Homo sapiens: one gene and its partner. The protein of the gene in region 1 interacts with the protein of each later gene in a pairwise test. Each region holds a gene or a part of one and is shown on either strand. Other genes may lie near its edges. The genes, in order: TLR2 and TRIM58.

Region 1 (3,073 bases):
TATTTCATCTTTTCTGGCCACTGACAAGTTTCAGGCATAGAATGAAAACTATTCTTACTGATATCAATGTTAGTCAAGTTTTTCAGAGTGAGCAAAGTCTCTCCGGTTTTTTCCAATGATGCCAAATGATTTTGCCTTAAAATTAAAGTTTGTAGAGAGGGCCAGGCATCCTCACAGGCTGAATTTTTCAAGTATTCTTCAACCATCAAATTTTCACTGAGATCCAAGTATTCTAATGATTTTAAATGTTGTGAAAGTAAACAAGGAACCAGAAAAACTTTACTGTTTTCTACTGTGATTCTTTTAACTCTTTCTGTAAGTGAATATAAAGTGCTCAGATCATAAAATAAGTAAAACCTTGGAATATGCAGCCTCCGGATTGTTAACGTTTCCACTTTACCTGGATCTATAACTCTGTCATTATCAGATGCTCTAAAATTACCAACTCCATTAAGGGTACAGTCATCAAACTCTAATTCTAACAATCCAGAAATCTGATTCAAAAGTTTCATAACCTGAAACAAACTTTCATCGGTGATTTTCACATTTCTAAATGTAAACTTTTTAATCAATGAATTTGTTTCACCAGTGGATAGTTCTGAAAAATGGAAAGTGTCCAAATCAGTATCTCGCAGTTCCAAACATTCCACGGAACTTGTAACATCTACAAAAATCTCCAGCAGTAAAATATGCTGCTTCATATGAAGGATCAGATGACTTACATTCTGAATTGACTTCAAACTTTTTGGCTCATAGCTCTGTAGATCTGAAGCATCAATCTCAAGTTCCTCAAGGAAGGTAAGTCCAGCAAAATCTTTTCTTTGAATCTTAGTGAAGGTGTCCATATTTCCCACTCTCAGGATTTGCAATTTTGTGAGATGAGAAAAAAGAGATGTTTCCCCTAGGGTTTTGTAAGGATTTCCCAGTAAGTTTAAGAATGTTAAAGAAGAAAGGGGCTTGAACCAGGAAGACGATAAATTAGATAAGTAATTATAGGATAAGTCTAAATGTTCAAGACTGCCCAGGGAAGAAAAAGAATCTTCCTCTATTGTGTTAATTCCATTGGATGTCAGCACCAGAGCCTGGAGGTTCACACACCTCTGTAGGTCACTGTTGCTAATGTAGGTGATCCTGTTGTTGGACAGGTCAAGGCTTTTTACAGCTTCTGTGAGCCCTGAGGGAATGGAGTTTAAAGATCCTGAGCTGCCCTTGCAGATACCATTGCGGTCACAAGACAGAGAAGCCTGATTGGAGGATTCTTCCTTGGAGAGGCTGATGATGACCCCCAAGACCCACACCATCCACAAAGTATGTGGCATTGTCCAGTGCTTCAACCTACAAATAAAAGAGGTTCAAATAAGTCATTGTGTTTGACAGCATATCGTAATTCTAATTCTTGAGAAATGTTTTCTAGGCATAACACACACACACACACACACACACACACACACACACACACACACAAAGAGAGAGAGAGAGAGAAACAGATGAATGGAACGAATGAATGGGGATAAAAAAATGAATTCCCTGATACATTCAGCAATGCTAACACAGACATACAACCACTATGCAGTACTTAAAAGCACAACCATCCGGAATTACAGAGCAAGACTCAATAACATGGATTGGAAGAGTGAGTAAATCAATGAATGGAGGAATGAGCAATCAAGCCTTTTAAGAAATGGGCTAAGCTTAACCATATGGATTTACAATCACCTTTTTCTGCACTTCAAACTTTCTTAACATTTAAGCATTTCTTTTCTCCGCTTCAGTGGCCGCCTTGATTCATAGAGATCTCACAGAACCAAACTATAGTTCTCATTCACTGAATGAAACTCCAGGAGTAGCATGCTTTGGGACCAAAAGAAAAAAGTTCCATGTTCATCAACCTGCCTCACACCTATCACTAGCAGGCAGGAGGGGTGTTGGAAACTCGAGGCAGACCAAGGTGGTTTGCTGAGTTGAAGGAGACTCACACCATCAGAACCCTGTCTTCCTGCCTAGAAGTAAATGCAAAAAGCAGTGTTTAAGTCTGGATGGGCTGTTCAGATTAATGTGGGGGAAATAAAACTATCTGCACCACAACTGCTAGTTTACTTGTAACCATAAACCCAACAACTTTCTCTTTGCCTACCTTCTGGGCCCTATATCATTCTTTGGTCTATTCAGCTACCTCATTTCTTGCATCTGTATGCCTTTGTCTGTATTTTCTCAGTGTGCTAACTATACAAAAATTTTTTTAAAAAATTTATCCCCAAGAACAAAACTTTTTATGAGTAAAACTAATTCCCCACATTCACAGAATCTGAGAGACTATAAAGGCCTGAGCTGTACAATTTATGGCCACAAAGAATTAAAACACAAACATGCTTGGTTTGGGAATTTAAATGCTGTTGAAGCCAGAATTTTTGTGTTCGCACCAAAACCACTGCTTCGCATTCCCTCTTTTTTTTTTTAAATAAATGGGTCATACCATGCATATTTATTCTGGATTTTCTTTTTTTTTTCCTTAGCTTTATTAAGGTATAATTGGTATACAAAGAAACTGTACATAATCAATGAACACAATTTGTATACATTATGTATACACACATATGTATACACTCATGGTATCATCACCGCAATCCAGGAAGTAAACATATTCATCATCTCCAAAAGCTTCTGCCACTCTGCGGTTGCCTTTTCACTTTCATAATGGAATCTTTTTGTCTTAGTCCATTAGTGCTTCTGTAACAAAATACCAGAGACCAAGTAATTTATAAAGAACAGAAATGTATTTATTATAGCTCTGGAGGCTGGGAAGTCTAAGATCAAGGCATGTGCACTGTTGTCTGGTGAGGGCTTCTCTCTCCTTCCAAGATGGTGCCTTGTTGCTGTGTCCTCACATGGGAGAACGCAAGAGGGCAAGGGGGCACTACATTCCATCTCAAGGCCTTTTATAAGGATGCTAATCCCATACCTGAGGAAAGACCCCTCATGACTTAGTCACTTCCCACAGGTCACACCTCTTAATACTTAGTTTTAGGATTAGTACTGTTACAATGGGGATTAAGTTTCAATATGAATTTTGGAG
Region 2 (3,833 bases), on another chromosome or scaffold:
TGCTATCGTATATAACAATGCAGTGAGCATACTTTTAGATAAATATTTGATTGTATCTGGTATTAAAATACATTTAAGGAGCTAGGCCCAGTGGCTCATGCCTATAATCCCAGCACTTTGGAAGGCCAAGATGGGAGACTCTCTGGAGGCCAGCAGTTTGACACCAGCCTGGGCAATATAGTAAGACCCCATCTCTACAGAAAACAAAATTAGCTGAATGTAATGATGTGTGCCTGGAGTCCTAGCTGCTTGGGAGGCTGAGGTGGGAGGATCATTTGATCCCAGGAGTTTGAGGCTGCAGTGAGCCATGATCGCAACACTGCACAACCTGAGTGACAGAGCGAGACCCTGACACTAAAACTTAAGTACATTTATGTTTAGTTTTTAATGATATTGAACATTTTTATGTGCTTTCTAGGGACTGTTTAAGTTGACTTTTGTATTTCCTCACACATCTGTGTGACGTTAGGTACAGATTGAGGGCATCTGTAACAGCTGAAATGTTCCCAAACAGGTAAAGCTCCAGATGGCTCTGGAACTTATGAGGAAAGAGTTGGAGGACGCCTTGACTCAGGAGGCCAACGTGGGGAAAAAGACTGTCATTTGGAAGGTAAGACCATGTTGGGGCTTTAGGAGGCTTGCCTGTTTGAAGGATCCAGATTCGGGTCAGTAATTCTTCTACCATCTTCCATTCTCCAGCACTTTTGTTCCATCTCCATATATGCCCAAGAGCACCTCAGAGCCATCCTGGGTCATCCCGTCCCCTCAAATGATATGGTTCATTTTTGTTCTTTTTGTCTCTACTGCCATCACCCAATCCAAATTATAATTAAATAGCTTTGCTAGTTTGATCTTCCTGTAAAACCCACTGCTGTATCCCTGTCACCTAGAATAGCATCTTATACTGTTGCTACCAGTTTGAAAATATTTGTTAGGTGAATGAAATAATGAATATTTCACAACTTTGTAACAGAAGAAGTGTAGCCCAAGGTGATCATCTTATATACAGGGTAATAATCTGAACGTTTAGCCTTTTTTTTCTATCATCTATACATACACATATTCCATTTTTTTATACCTCACTAGCTCTTTTTATTCCATGTTTCATTCATGCACATGTGCGTGCACACGTGTACACACACACACAGTGATTCATACACACACAGTGATTCACATACACACACACACACAGTGATTCTCAACCTGAGGCGATACCTGCCCCCCAAGATAACATTTTGCAATTTCTGGAGATGATATTTTTGGATGTCACAACTGAGGAGGGGTGGGTGCAGTGCACCTGTCATCTAGTAGAGGCAGGAATGCAGCTTAACACCCTGTAGTCCACAGGACAGTTCCCATATCTTGTGAGGAAAAAATGATCTGTTCAAGATGTCAGTAGTGTCAAGATTGAGAAACTACGTATAGAAACTGTGTGTATAGTTCTATATATTCATATAATGTATTATATAATATGATATATAATAGGTTATACTTTGCAGAATATTCCTATTCTTTCTCCTTTTCCAAATAACCCTTCTTTTCTGATCACTCTATATATTTATAATTATTTCCTTCTTGTTTTCTTTGAAAATTTAGTCTTATACTCTGTCTTTATACAGATATTACATAAAGACTTTTTAAACTATATTTTTCTTTATTTACTACATTACTAGATTACAATATAGATATATACGGATAGGAAAAGATAACACTTATCCCAGAAGAAACATGTACATTAAGGCCAGGCGTGGTGGCTCACACCTGTAATCTCAGCACTTTGGGAAGCCGAAGCAGGTGGATCACCTGAGGTCAGGAGTTCGAGACCAGCCTGACCAACACGGAGAAACCCCGTCTCTACTAAAAATACAAAAAAAAATTAGCCAGGCGTGGTGGCACATGCCTATAATCCCAGCTACTCGGGAGGCTGAGGCAGGAGAATTGCTTGAACCTAGGAGGCAGAGGTTGTGGTGAGCTGAGATCGTGCCATTGCACTCCAGCCTGGGCAACAAGAGTGAAACTCTGTCTCAGACAAAAAAAGGAAAAAAGAAAAGAAAAATGTACATTATAGGTAAATGATGTAGATAGTGATAGGAAAGGATAAAAGTTATCAATATTAAATAATATTGATGTTAATAACATTAGTACCTAACGTTACTCAGATGTGTGAAGAAATATTTAAACTTATTAACGTTGATACTGACAAACTTATCAATATTATTAACAAATATCTTTAAACTAGTAGTGACAGTATAAGATGCAATTCTAGGTGATAGGGATATAGCAGTGGGTTCTGCAGTAAGATCAAGCTAGTAAAGCATAGTTTCGATTGGGTAGTGGCAATGGAGATAAAAAGAACAAGAACAAAGCTTTACAGTATTAAATAATGTTCATTACTTGCCTATAATGTACATAGTGGTAGGATGTACATTATTTAATATTGTAATATTGATTGATAATTTTTGTTCTTTTCAGGCTGAAATACAAGTCAGTTGTTTTCAATCCTGGCCTGACCATAGATCTATAAAATCAGAATCCCCATATCGGAGAGCTGAGTTCCTGCATGTTTTAAGCCCTCTACAGATTATTCTTAAGTAGGGATGATACTAAGATCCCTGTTCTAAGCCAAGTAAACTTGCATGATCATTACCATCAAGAATGTCTCCATGTGAGCCAAATGCAGCAAACACATCTTTGGTCAAAAGTTATTCTAAATACTGCAAAACCACCTTTCCTTTTTCTCTGTCTGCAGATATAGTTGTGCTCAAGAGGGTGGTGTGAAAGGAAGATGGATTGCAGGCAAATCGCTTCCCACCTTCCCACCTCACACCCCCTCGTGCCCCAGGTATGACTCTACCCTTCTCCAGTGGCTGCGTTATTTGCCCCACCCCACGACAGCACAGCCTCTGATATGAAGAGAGCTTCTCATATTTACATGAGTTACACTTTCAGGAATCAGTGTATGGAATTCAGACTTGGCTGATTTCAGAAAGAAGATGAAGTTTTCTGAATCTGGTGATTTAGAAAATGGTGGAAGGAGGTAGAGATGGAAAATGGAAGGAAGTAGTTAAGTCTTAGGGGATGTTTAGTTTAAAAAGGTGATAGCTCATGCCTTTTAGTCAAAGCAAGAAGTTATCACGTTTAAAAACAGGCAAATAGGCTGGGCACAGTGGCTCACGCCTGTAATCCCAGCACTTTGGGAGGCCGATGCGGGCCGATCGTGAGGTCAGGAGTTTGAGACCAGCCTGACCAATACGGTGAAACCCTGTCTCTACTAAAAATACAAAAATTAGCTGGGCATGGTGCTGCGTGCCTGTAATCCCACTTACTCGGGAGGCTGAGACAGGAGAATCACTTGAACCCAGGAGGAGGAGGTTGTAGTGAGCCGAGATCGCGCCACTGCACTCTAGCCTGGGTGACAGAGCGAGACTCTGTCTCAAAAAAAAGATTAAAAAAAAAACCAGGCAAATGACTTCACCTACAAGGCCGTATAACAATGTAACAAAACTGCATTTGTACCCCATGAATATATACAAAAAATAAAATAAATCGATAAAACAGGACAGAGAATGGGAGGTATAGATACTTTGAGGGAATAATTTACCTCTCGTACTCAGCTTAAAGTTAGTTTTCGATATACTTATCTTGAGAGAAGAAAATCTAGAAACTAAGCCTGGGACGAAGTATGTTCCTTAGGTCTATTCAGAAACTGAAGACGTGAGATTCAGGTAGAAATTGGGATTAATTCTCTGACGTGAACTCTGAAATCAGTGGCCTGAGCATCACTTAGTTCTTTCTTGGCTTTGTAGAGAATGTTAGGCTTATGGTTGTGTTCA

The links.
Region 2: the proteins of TLR2 (region 1) and TRIM58 interact in a two-hybrid assay, tested with the Homo sapiens proteins (one large-scale study listed by BioGRID).

Annotation. Positions count from the first base shown.
Region 1 is NC_000004.12:153,701,154-153,704,226, reverse strand, and holds part of TLR2 (toll-like receptor 2 precursor), read right to left. Parts: intron 2,001-3,073; exon of another isoform or gene 1,336-2,000; 5' UTR 1,320-1,335; coding exon 1-1,319. UniProt on the Homo sapiens protein: Cooperates with LY96 to mediate the innate immune response to bacterial lipoproteins and other microbial cell wall components. Cooperates with TLR1 or TLR6 to mediate the innate immune response to bacterial lipoproteins or lipopeptides.
Region 2 is NC_000001.11:247,860,103-247,863,935, forward strand, and holds part of TRIM58 (E3 ubiquitin-protein ligase TRIM58), read left to right. Parts: intron 1-514; coding exon 515-610; intron 611-3,833. UniProt on the Homo sapiens protein: E3 ubiquitin ligase induced during late erythropoiesis. Directly binds and ubiquitinates the intermediate chain of the microtubule motor dynein (DYNC1LI1/DYNC1LI2), stimulating the degradation of the dynein holoprotein complex.